2 linked regions of the Homo sapiens genome follow. The protein of the gene in region 1 purifies or fractionates together with the protein of each later gene. This does not show direct contact. Each region holds a gene or a part of one and is shown on either strand. Other genes may lie near its edges.

The links.
Region 2: the proteins of PHYHIP (region 1) and PRKD2 purify together in Homo sapiens (affinity purification with mass spectrometry; 3 studies listed by BioGRID and IntAct, with this or other methods). This does not show direct contact.

Annotation. Positions count from the first base shown.
Region 1 is NC_000008.11:22,217,395-22,223,397, forward strand, and holds the end of PHYHIP (phytanoyl-CoA hydroxylase-interacting protein), read right to left. Parts: intron 4,494-6,003; coding exon 3,959-4,493; 3' UTR 2,309-3,958; downstream 1-2,308. UniProt on the Homo sapiens protein: Its interaction with PHYH suggests a role in the development of the central system.
Region 2 is NC_000019.10:46,707,115-46,714,114, reverse strand, and holds part of PRKD2 (serine/threonine-protein kinase D2), read left to right. Parts: exon of another isoform or gene 1-113; coding exon 114-252; intron 253-3,076; coding exon 3,077-3,208; intron 3,209-4,760; exon of another isoform or gene 4,761-4,833; intron 4,834-7,000.

The DNA.
Region 1 (6,003 bases):
AACTAGGCACAGACGTGCTTAACTGGTGTTGTGGAGGGGACCCCTGGGGGTGTCACTGTGTCTGAAACAGGACTGTCCCAGGTAGCCCCTGACATACACTAGAGGAGACAGGCACAGGGCAGAAAATGGGAAGATTCTGGTATCTCAATCAAAGCCTGGGCACTGTCACTTACAGGCTGTAAGACATGGGCAAGGCTTTGTGCCTCAGTTTCTACTTCTGTTAAGTGGGAATAATACTCCCCAGGACCATCGTGAAGACTAAAGAAGCTGATGTGTGTGACAGCACCCAGGTGCCTGGTGCATAGTAGGCCCTCAGGAGCCATCATCTGCCCTTCTGCTTTCCTTTCTACCCCAAAAAGGCTGTGCCCTGAGCTCTGGATGACACACGTGAACATGGCCTTGAGTCAGGCAGTGTTGGTGAGGACTCTGACTTCTTTAGAGCTTTTCTACTCCAGCAGAGGACCATATCAATAAGTCCATAACAATAGATGCAGGCCAGGTGCAGTGACTCAAGCCTGTAATCCCAGCACTTTGGGAGGCAGGAGGATCACTTAAGCCCAGGAGTTTGAGACCAGCCTGGGCAACACAGGGAAACTCCATCTCTACAAAATAAAAAATGTTAAAAAACCTAGCTGGGCATGGTGGTGTACGCCTGTGGTCCCAACTACTCTGGAGGCTGAGGTGGGAGGATCACTTGGGCCCCAGAGGTTGAGGCTGCAGTGAACCATGATCGTGCCACTGCACTCCAGTCTGGACAACAGAGGAAGACCCTGTCTCAAGAAATAAAAATAATGGCCAGGCACAGTGGCTCGCTCATGCCTGTAATCCCAGCACTTTGGGAGGCTGAGGTGGGTGGATCACTTGAGGTCAGGGGTTCGAGACCAGCCTGGCCAACATGGTGAAAGCTCATCTCTATTAAAAATACAAAAATTATCCAGGCATGGTGGCATGTACCTGTAGTCCCAGCTACGTGGGAGGCTGAGGCTGGAGAATTGCTTGAACCTGGGAGGTGGAAGTTACACTGAGCCAAGATCGTGCCACTGCACTCCAGCCTGGGTGACAGAGCGAGGCTCCATCTCAAAAATAATAATGATAATGATAATAATAAAATGATAGATGCAGAGGTGACTGGGATCTATAAACGGGAGCTGTGTTGGGGAGCGGGGACACTCAGGCACTTGGGACAGGGACATTTGGTGGCATCTGGGTCTGGAGCAATGGCAAGCTGCTGTAGTAGGAAGGCTTCAAAAGCTCCAAACGGGGCCTCCAGATGCTGTGAGTCCTCTCCTAGGACGCCCCATGTGGGAGGCCCCATATGGGAAACACTGGGTGGGACCAAAAGACTCCAAAGTCCCTTCCAAGCTGGAGACTCAGCTCTACATCCTGAGCCCCGCCTCCCACAATGGACGAGGTGCTCCCTTGGAGCTGATTTCAGGTCGCCTGTCCTGGGGGCATTCCCACCTGAGCTCCTCTGTGGTTTGCAGAACTCACCCATACCATCACTGGCCCAAAGGGATGGGGTGCTATGGTCTGAATGTTTGTGTCCCCCCTAAATCCTAGGTTGACTTTTTTTTTTTTTTTTTTTTTTTTTTTTTGAGATGGAGTCTCACTCTGTAACCCAGGCTGGAGTGCAATGGCGCAATCTCGGCTTGCTGCAACCTCCGCCTCCTAGGTTCAAGCAATTCTCCTGCCTCAGGCTCCTCAGTAGCTAGGATTACAGGCATGCACCACCACGCCCAGCTAATTTTGTATTTTTAGTAGAGACAGGGTTTCACCATATTGGCCAGGCTGGTCTTGAACCCCTGACCTCCACTGATCCACCTGCCTCAGCCTCCCAAAATGCTGGGATTACAGGCGTGAGCCACCTCACCCAGCTCTAGGTGGAAATTCTAACCCCAAGGTGATAGTTTTAGGAAGCAGGGCCTTGGAAGGCGATGAGGTCATGAGGGTGGGGCCACATGAATGGGATTAGTGCCTTTATGAAAGGGGCCCAAGATGGCCCAGAGCAGTGGCTCATGCCTGTAATCCCAAGCACCTTGGGAGGCCAAGCAGGTGGGAGGATCACTTGAGGCCAGGAGTTTGAGGCCAGCCTGGGCAACAAGGTGAAATTCCCCATGTCTACAAAAAAAAAAAAGGAGGGGCAAGAGAGCTTGCTAGTCCCTTTCACCCTGTGAGGACACAGTGAAAAGAGCCATCTGTGAAGCAGGCCCTCACCAGACACCGCTTCTGCCAGCACCTTGATCTATGAGAAATGAATCTGCGGTTTCTGAGCCACCCAATGTGTGGTATTTTGTTACAGCAGCTCAAATGGACTGAGACGAGCAGGGCCCTCAGGCCATGGTGGTTTATTGATGCACGTCGCAAGCACAGCACAGGCAGGCGGACCCCAGCCCCGGGGGGACATGAGGGCCAGGGGAGGGCAGTGGGCCACCCCCACAGCAATGCTGTCAGCACAGGGGGAAGGAAAGGGCCTGGGCCATGTTCTCTCCTTCTCCACACCTCTCCCCAAGCCTCCAGGCCTCCTGACTCATCCCAGAGAGACAGCTGGCCACACAACTGCCCCTGGCTACAGATAGGTGACCGTTGTCCACCTGTCCCTCACCGAGGTATGGCCTTGCCGGCCCGCTGCTGCTTCCGTCCTTCATCACGAAAATCCAGCTGCTCATCCATCATCTCTGTCACCTCTGAGAAAGTCACTGTGAGGCTGCACTCTCCTCTGCCTGATGTCACCTCCATCATCCCCCAAACAGCCGGCTGCTGCTGTCAGCCCCTCCCACAGGCTCTCTGTTTGCTTTGTTGATTGTAGGGAGTCCACCCTCGTGACCTGTGTGACAGTAGGAATGAGGCAAAAACACAAGGAGGCCCGGGAAGGACTTCACCAAGAACTCCCCGGGGAGGGGCTCCCGGCCAGCAGGGTGGCAGGAGAGCAGACAGAGCCAGTGGGGAGGGGAGAGGCGGAGCAGCAGAGGGTCCACAGTCCAGGTCACGCATGGGCACAGTACAGTCATGGCACCATGGCAGAGCGAGTGAGCAAAGTGCACAGCTGGGCGGGGTGCCGGGGCCCGCGGGACAGCTTACAGGTCTCACGTTCCATGCCAGGCCCCAGCAGAGCATGAGGCGGCCCACTCCCAGCTGAGGAAGGGGCACCTCTGGGTCTCAGGGGTCTCCTCCCCCTCCTCAACCCCAGTGGCTGCTGTCTCAGACCCCTGCACTCTAAGCAAGGAGAAGGTATGCTGGGGTATGGAAGGAAGGAACATCCGACAGCCTGACGCCCCCAGTGCCAAGAGAAGAAAGAGAGTTCCTTTCTAGAGAGCAGGGGGAGTGTCCCGGTGGGCAGGTGGAGAAGGAGGGACAGCTCTCCCATGCAGGAAGAGGGTTCTTTGGGGCAAGGAGCAGCCAGGGAGTCACGGTGGTGCAGGAGACTATTTATAGAAGGAAGGGATCCAGGCCTGGAGTGGGAAGCCCCAGAGACCCAGCTCAGCAGGGAGGGGGCATTCTGTGGTTGGCCCTGAGTGGGGTGAGTGGGACTAAGAAAGATCGCCCCACAGCTCTCTGCATCTCTTCTGGAGGCAGCCAAGCTACCCATGGGCTTTGGCCCAGAGGGGCTTCCCTGGGAGAGCCCAGGAGGTGGGCAGGTCTTTGGGAGATAGAGACCTGGACGAGGCAAAGAACAGTAGGACAAGGAAACCAGAGGAAAGGGGAAGTTCTCCAGAAGTCCAGCCCAGCTGCCAACTACAGAGGCTGAGAAGCCTTTCCATGTCCACCAGGCTGGGTGTGGGCCACACTTACCAAGAGGACCACCGTCTGTTGCCTCCAATGCCAAGGGGCGAGGGGAGGGCAGCTGGGCAGAGTGGAGGGAGCAGGGGGGCAGGAGAGAGAAAGCCAGCTCCCTGAACCTGGGCTACCCACCTCCACCTTCCGCTCATCTCTCCCTCGCCCCCCAGCTCCCCAGGAGTCCCTAGCGGCCCACGCTGATGTTGCAGGTCTTGCAGCTGGGGTCCTTCTTGGCATCGGCAGTAGACAGACTCATGAGCTGGTGCCCACTGATCTCCCCCAGGGTGCCCAGGGACAGGTCGACGGGCTCAGTGTAGATGATCTCCAGGATGAGGTCCTGGGCGTGGCGGAAGACCAGCTCCCCATCCTCCACGCTGCAGGTCAGGAACTTGTTGCAAGCAATGTCCAGGAGGGGCAGGCGGTCGCGGCAGAAGCGGTCCCCCAGGGAGCCTTTGGGCGCCAGCACCAGGATGGCGTAGTGGTAGGCCGTGTACATGCAGTAGAAGTCCGCAAAGTAGAGGTTGGTGCTGGGATTGAAGAGGCGCTGAGCTGGGATCTGGAAGCGCCAGCGGCCGTAGGGGGAGTCCTGCGGGGGCTGGCCCGTGTTGAACTCCGTGTTGCAGCTGAAGAAGACCCCGTGGAGCATACCGCTGGTGGGGGAGCCGTGGCTGCCACTGTTGTCCTTCAGGTAAGGCTGCAGCATGTTCCCGCAGTGGGTCCTGCCCACCCCAGGGAGACACACCAAAGGGAAGAGAAGATGTGGCTGGTGAGCCGGGCTGAGGCTTGGCTGCTGCGTGTGGTCGAGGAGGGAGGAAGCCAGCCCAGCTCCCAGCCCTCCCCCAGCCGCCTCCACTAGTCGCAAATAGAACATTCCAGAATGCAAGAGCAGGGAGGGCCCTGGAGAGGGATTCAACCAGCCCACTCCTTCTCAGAGAAGAGATATGAAGCTGTCACTCCCCAGCTTGAAACCCTTTGATGGGGTGTGTGTGAAAAACACGGCGGCTCATGATCTGATCTCTGTGGTCTCCTTGCCACTCCCCACCTCCTGCCACCCCATCCACTTACCCACCCCCTGCACACACAGTCTCCTGCCTCCGTGACCCCTATGCAGGACTCTTCCCTCTGCTGCACTGACTGCCCTCTCCACCTTCCTCCGTCTGGCTTGGCAAACTTCTAATTAGCCTTCAAGCTTCAGTCAAGCGTCTGCTCCCCTCTAAAACCTCCCAGGAACAGCAGACACCTGCACTTGACAAATTTTTGGCTTCCTACTATGTGCAGGACACCCAATCTTCTCACTATGTTGCCCAGGCTGGACTTGAACTCCTGGCCTCAAGTGATCCTCCTGCTTCAGCCTCCCAAAGTGCTAGGATTGCAGGTGTGAGCCACTTCACCTGGCCAGGACACTGAACTGTGCTCAACAATTACACGTACTTTTTACATGAAATCTTTCCATACTGTCTCTCTGACTGGATTCTGAGGTTCTCAAAAGAGTGAACTGTGCCTTTATCTTTACATCCTGGCACCAAGTAAGGTGCCTGGCACCCATGAGTGCTCTCTATCTCTCCCACTCTCGCTGATAAAGGAGCCCAAACTGGGCCACTGACTTGCTTTCCAGGCTGGAGTGCAGTGGTGCAATCACAGCTCACTGCAAGCTCGAACTCCTGGGCTCAAGCAATCCACACCCGGCTAATTCTTTAAATTTTTTGCAGAGGCTGGGGTCTCACTATGTTGCTCAGGCTAGTCTTGAACTCTTGGGGTCAAGAGATCCCATCTCGGCCTCCCAACGTGGTAGGATTACAGGCTTGAGCCACCAAGCAGGCCTTGCTTCTTTAATACAAACCCCAAAGACTCCCAAGGTCCTCACTGCCCTGAGGTTAAAACTGCCCTGACTGTAAGGATAAAGACAGACAGAGGCCGGGCGTGGTGGCTCATGCCTGTAATCCCAGGACCTTGGGAGGCCGAGGTGGGCGGATCACCTGAGGTCAGGAGTTTGAGACCAGCCTGGCCAACATGGTGAAACCCCACTTCATTAAAAATACAAAAATTAGCCGGGCATGGTGGCGCATACCTGTGGTCCCAGCTACTCAAGAGGCTGAGGCAGGAGAATCATTTTAACCCAGAAGGCAGAGGTTGTAGTGAGCAGAGATCGCGCCCCTGCACTCCAGCCTGGGTGACAGAGAAGACGCCATCTCAAAAAAAAAAAAAAAAAAAAAGGCAGAGCAGCTGCTT
Region 2 (7,000 bases), on another chromosome or scaffold:
TCTCTGCGTTTCCGGGGGAAACAGCCGGCCCTGCCCTGGGAGGGTCACAGTCCGCCCGCTGCTGAAGGCGGCTCTGAGCTTTTCCGTCGCCACATCCCTCTCCCGCCCCTCAGTTCCCTGAGTGTGGCTTCTACGGCCTTTACGACAAGATCCTGCTTTTCAAACATGACCCCACGTCGGCCAACCTCCTGCAGCTGGTGCGCTCGTCCGGAGACATCCAGGAGGGCGACCTGGTGGAGGTGGTGCTGTCGGGTGAGAGGTGGTGGCCGGCCTGGGGGCGGGGCCTCGGGTGGGGGCGGGGCATCTGGGGGAGGAGAGGGTAGGGGGAGTTAGAAGTCAGGAGAGGCCGGGTGTAGTGGCTCACGCCTGTGATCCCAGCACTTTGGGAGGCTGAGCTGGAGCTGGGGGGATCGCTTGAGCCCAGGAGTTCGAGATCAGCCTGGGCAACATAGTGAGATTCCATCTCTACCCCTTTCTCTCCCTCTGAAAAAAAAAAATAAGGAGAGTTGGGGGCTTCTGGAAGATGGTTACAGAGTGGGGTCATGAAGGCGCTCTTTAGGGACTGGTCTAAACTTTCATTTATGGATTAGGATGCTAGTGACACGCTTTGTACAGTTTGAAAATTCATTGAGCTGTGCACTTGTGATGTGCGGCCTTTCCTGAACATATGTTATACTTATTTATTTATAAAACTAGTCAAGTGCAGTAGTTAGAAGGGGGAAAAGAGGAGAAGAAGGAGTTGGATCTGTAACTGACTGTGTTATGCTTAAATATAAAGGTAAAAAATGGGCCAGCTGCAGTGGCTCACACCTGTAATCCCAGCAGTTTGGGAGGCTGAGGTGGGAGGATCGCTGGAGCCCAGGAGTTTGAGACCAGCCTGGGCAACATAAGGAGACCCCATCTCTTAAAAAAAAAAAAAAAAAAAAAAGTTAACCGGGCGAGGTGGCACACGTCTGTAGTCTCAGCTACTTGGGAGGCTGAGGTGGGAGGATTTCTTGAGCTTAGGAGTTTGAGGCTGCAGTGAGCCACGATCATGTCACTGCACTCCAGCCTGGGCAACAGAGAGAGACCCTATCTCTAAAAAAGAAAAAAAGTAGAAAAAGAAAAAAAAAAGTTATGATGTCCATGGCTCCTGCCACGAAAATGCTAAATTAAATCAGAATCTCTGCAAAGTGAGATGGAATCTGCACATCAGTATTTTTAAAAGCCCCCAGGTGATTTTCTAAGACACAGCCAGAAGCCAGTTCATCCACTCACTATTCCAGTAGTATAGATGGGCATGCTCTCAGCACCTTAGAGCAGTCTATGGCCCTTGGTCCCTCTTGAGGGTGGGGGCAGCTGCCTTTTTCATGGCTGCCTTCCCTGCTGCTCCGGCATACTGCAGTGCCCAGTGAAACCGGCTCAATGAATGAATGACAGAAGTCTGGATTTACACCTTTAGTGACCTTGTTCAGGCTTTAAGTACTCTTTCATATCATAAGCTGGCCTCACTTGAATTTTTATCTTCATTGTTGTCTCTCCCCTAAACCTGAGTTTTGTTTTGTTTTTGTCATTTTTATTATTTTTTGTTTTTTTAGACGGAGTCTCGCTCTGTCACCCAGGCTGGAGTGCAGTGGCGCAAACTCAGCTTGCTGCAACCTCTGCCTCCTGGGTTCAAGCGATTCTCCTGCCTCAGCCTCCCGAGTAGCTGGGATTACAGGCGCCTGCTACCACACGTGGCTAATTTTTGTATTTTTAGTAGAGACGGGATTTCACCTTGTTGGCCAGGCTGGTCTCGAACTGCTGATCTTAAGTGATCTGCCCACCTCAGCCTCCCAAAGTGCTGCGATTACAGGTGTGAGCCACCGCTCCCGGCCCTGTTATTTTGTTTTGAGGCAGGGTCTTGTTCTGTCACCCAGGCTGGAATGCAGTGGCATGACCACCACTCACTGCAGCCTCTACCTCCCAGACTGAAGCAATCATCCCGCCTCAGCCTCCTGAGGTGGCTGGACTATAGGCATTACAGGCATGCACCACCACACTGGGCTTTTTTTTTTTTTCTTTTTTTTAGACAGAATCTTACTCTGTCACCCAGGCTGGAGTGCCGTGGCATGATCTTGGCTCACGGCAACCTCTGCCTCCCGGGTTCAAGCAATTCTCCTGCCTCAGCCTCCTGAGTAGCTGGGATTACAGGCACGCGGCACCAGGCCTGGCTAATTTTTGTATTTTTAGTAGAGACGGGGTTTCATCATGTTGGCCAGGCTGGTTTCGAACTTCTGACCTCAAGTGATCCGCCCACCTGGGCCTCCCAAAGTGCTGGGATTACAGATGTGAGCCACCGGGCACCGCCTATCCATGTTCTTTTTTGTTGTTGGTGGTGGTATTTTTAATTAAAAATTTTTTAATTTGGTAAAATATACATAACATAAAAATTACTATTTTAGGCCGGGTGCAGTGGCTCACGCCTGTAATCCCAACACTTTGAGAGACCGAGGCGGGCAGATCACCTGAGGTCGGGAGTTTGAGACCATCCTGGCCAACATGGTGAAACTCCGTCTCTACTAAAAATACAAAAATTAGTCGGGTGTGGTGGCGCATGCCTGTAATCCCAGCTACTCTGGAGGCTGAGGCAGGAGAACTGCTTGAACCCGGGAGGCGGACTTGTGGTGAGCCGAGATCTCACTACTGTACTCCAGCCTGGGTGACAGAGTGAAACTCTCTAACAAACACAAACAAAAAAGCCCACAACATTTTAAGCACTTTTAAGCGTACAGTTCAGTAATTTAAAGTTCACGCACACTGTTGTGCAGCCGGTCTCCAGAACTGTTGTCATCTTGCGAAACTGAAGCTCCTTGCCCGTTAAACAACTCCCCAATTCCCGCTCTGTCCCTGCCCAGGGCGTAGGGATATATGTGTTTTGTTCAGGGGTGGAGCTGGGATTTGAACCCAGGCAGAATGTAGTATGAGAGCAAATGAAGGAAGGAAGGAAAGATCACACCTTGCGGCTGGGAGCACTGTGAGAAATCAGGGAACGTGGGGTCTGGAAAAGCTTTGGCCTACCCCGCCTCAAGCATCCACCCCTATTTTCCGCCTACAGCCTCGGCCACCTTCGAGGACTTCCAGATCCGCCCGCACGCCCTCACGGTGCACTCCTATCGGGCGCCTGCCTTCTGTGATCACTGCGGGGAGATGCTCTTCGGCCTAGTGCGCCAGGGCCTCAAGTGCGATGGTGAGAGCTAAAGGGTTGGGGGCGGGGCCTGGGGCGGGGCTCTGCACCGGGGGCGGAGCGTAATGGTCCTGGCACGGGGACAGCGTGGGGAGGAGGAGCGGGTCTCAGAGCTGGGGGCGCAGCCTAGGAAGTAATAATGGGAAGAAGGATGGGCCCAGAAGCAGAGCTTGGGGAAGGAGTGGTGGGGCTGGGCCGGGGCTCAGGTCTAGGGGCGGAGCCTAGGAGGTGGAGCTGGGAGGGACAAGTAGGGGCTTAAGAACAGAGCCTAGGGGAGCAGAAGGGTGGCGGGGGAAGAGGGTGGGGCCTCTATCAGTTAGGGATCAAGCAGAGAAACATCCAGGAGGAGATATATATTGAGATATTTATATGCAAGGAATCAGCTTACAGAATTGTGTGGGCTGGCTAGGCAACTCAAATCTGGCTGGGCACAGTGGGGGAGGCCAGTAATCCCAGCACTTTGGGAGGCAAAGGTAGGTGGATCACTTGAGGCCAGGAGTTCAAGACCAGCCTGGGCAACATAGCAAGACTCTGCCTGTACAAAAAATAATTAGCCAAGCATGGTGACAGACACTTGTGGTCCCAGCCACTTGGGAGGCTGAGGCGGGAGGATCACTTGAGCCTGGGAGCTCGACACTGTAGTGAGCCCTGATTGCACCACTGCACACCAGCCTGGGTGACAGAGCGAGACCCTGGCTCAAAAACAGGAAAAAGGCCGGACACGGTGGCTCATGCCTGTAATCCCAGCACTTTGGGAGGCCGAGGCGGGTGGATCACGAGGTCAGGAGATTGAGACCCTCCTGGCTAACATGGTGAAACCCCGTCTCTACTAAAAATACAAAAAATTAGCCGGACGTGGTGGCACACGCCTGTAGTCCCAGCTACTTGGGAGGCTGAGGCAGGAGAATTGCTTGGACCTGAGAGGAGGAGGTTGCAGTGAGCCGAGATTGTGCCACTGCACTCCAGCCTGGTGATAGAGTGAGACTCCTTCTGAAAACAGAAACAAAAACAAAACAATAAAAAGAAAAAGAAAAAAAAATCCATCCTATCAGGAAGGGCAAGTGGGAACTCAGGCACAAGCTGAAGCTGATGTCCACAGGTGGAATTTCTTCATCCGAAAAGTCTCTGATCTGCTTTTTAAAACATTCAGCTGATTGAATGAGACCCACCTAGAACAAGCAGGATCACCTCTCCCACTTACAGTCAGCTGATTATGGATTTTCATCACATCCAGAAAATACCTCCACTGGGCCGGGTGCGGTGGCTCACGCCTGTAATCCCAGCACTCTGGGAGGCCGAGGCAGGTGAATCACCTGAGGTCAGGAGTTCGAGACCAGCCTGTCCAACATGGTGAAACCCCGTCTCTACTAAAAATACAAAAAAGCCGGCGTGTTGGTGGACGCCTGTAATTCCAGCTACTCGGGAGGCTCAGTCAGGAGAATCTCTTGAACCCGGGAGGCAGAGCTTGCAGTGAGCTGAGATTGCACCATTACACTCCAGCCTGGGCAACAAGAGCAAAACTCTGTCTCAAAAAAATGAAAAGAAAAGAAAATACCTCCATGGGGCCTTCTCTTCCCAGTTCTTCCTGGAGTCGGGGAAAAGCTGGGTTGAGAAGGTGAAAAGAAAAAACAAACCTTGACTGGGCACAGTGGTTCACACCTGTAACCCCAGCACTTTGGAGGCTGAGGCAGGCGGATCATGAGGTCAAGAGATTGAGACCACCCTGGCCAACATGGTGAAACCCCATCTCTCCTAAAAATACAAAAATTAGCGGGCGTGGTGGCATGTGCCTATAGTCCCAGCTACTTGGGAGGCTGAGGTAGGAGAATCACTTGAACCCAGGAGACAGAGGTTGCAGTGAGCCGAGATCGTGCCACTGCACTCCAGCCTGGCAACAGAGCGAGACTCCGTCTCAAAAAAAAAAAAAAAAAAAAAAACCACAAACAAACCAACCTTCATGGCAACATCTAGATTAGTGTCTGAATAACTGTGGATCTCGCCTAGCCAAGCTGACACATTAACATGACTATCAGGGTCCATCTCTTGTCAACCTGGCACCTGTCTTAGTTTGTCAGGGCTGCCTTAACAAAATACCACCCTGCGTGGCTTAAATGACAGACATTTACTTCTCAAAATCCCTGGAATTGTGAGAGGCTGGAAAGACAAAGATCCAGATTCTGGCAGGGTTCTGTTTCTGGTGTAGCCTGCTTTCCTGCCTTGCAGAGGGCCATCATTTCACTGTGCGCTCACATGGGACACGGAGAGAGAGATCCCTGGTATCTCTTCCCTTTATAAGGAAGGCCAGGCATGGTGGCTCATGCCTATAATCCCAGCACTTTGGGAGGATGGTGGATCGCTTGAGTCCAGGAGTTCGAGACCAGCATGGGCAACATGGTGAAACCCCGTCTCTAAAAAATACAACAAATTGGCCAGGCATGGTGGTGCATACCTCTAGTCCTAGCTACTCAAGAGGCTGAGGTGGGAGGATCACCTGGGCCTGGGAGGTTGAGGCTGCGGTGAGCCGTGATCATGCCACTGCACTCCAGCCTAGGTGACAGAACACGATTGTCTCAGAAAAAAAAAAAAAAAAAAAAAAAAAAAGGTCACCAGTCCCATTGGATTACAGCCACACTCTTTCGGCCTCAATTAACCTTAATTACCTCCATAAAGGCACCGTCTCCAGATATAGTTGCATTGGAGGTTAGGGTTTCAACATAAGAATTTTGGGGGAGACACAGACATTTAGTCCATAACAGCACCCATACATATCTCCTTAAATCATAGTTTAAAAATATACAGGTTTTCTTTTTTGGAGACAGCGTCTCAGTCTGTCACCCAGGCTGGAGTGCAGTGGCGCGATCTCAGCTCACCACAACCTCCACTTCCCAGGCTCAAGCGATTCTCCTGCCTCAGCCTACCGAGTAGCTGGGATTACAGGCACACACCATTACTGCCCGGCTAATTTTTGTATTTCTAGTAGAGACGGGGTTTCACCACGTTGGCCAGGCTGGTCTTGAACTCCTGACCTCAAATGATCCACCCGCCTTGCCCTCCCACAGTGCTGGGATTACAGGCATGAGCCACCGCGCCTGTCCAAAACATACAGTTCTTTAAGCCAAGATGTCTCAAGGTTCAGCCCAAGTGTCAAGATCTATATAGGTCCTCTGTCCCTGTTATTCATGCTTCTGAGTGAGAATGTTGAAATCGGGGCTCTGCCTACAGATGAAGGCCATGTACCTGCATTGGCTATGAGGACAGATGACAGGTGAGGACCATCCATTCTGTGATGAGACCCTGTGGCTCCATTGTTTTGTGTGTGTGAGACAGAGTCTTGCTCCGTCACCCAGGATGGAGTGCAGTGGCGTGGTCTTGGCTCACTGCAACCTCTACCTCCTGGGTTCAAGCAATTCTCCTGCTTCAGCCTCCCAAATAGCTGGGATTACAGGTGCGCACCACCACTCCTGGCTAATTTTTGTATTTTTAGTAGACGGGGTTTCACCATGTTGGCCAGGCTGGTTTCAAGTAATCCACCCTCCTCAGCCTCCCCAAGTGCTGGGATTACAGACATGAGCCACTGCGCTGGGCCCCATGCGCCTCCATTTTTGTATGGTGTGCCCTGCAATTAGAGCCATATTCTTGGATGTTCCATTGGGTATTAGGTCTGAGACAGCATCTCTAGCTCCGTGGGTGCCACGCTTGTACAGAAATCCTGATTCTGGGCCAGGCACGGTGGCTCACACCTGTAATCCCAGCACTTTGGGAGGCCAAGGCGGGCGGATCATGAGGTCAGGAGTT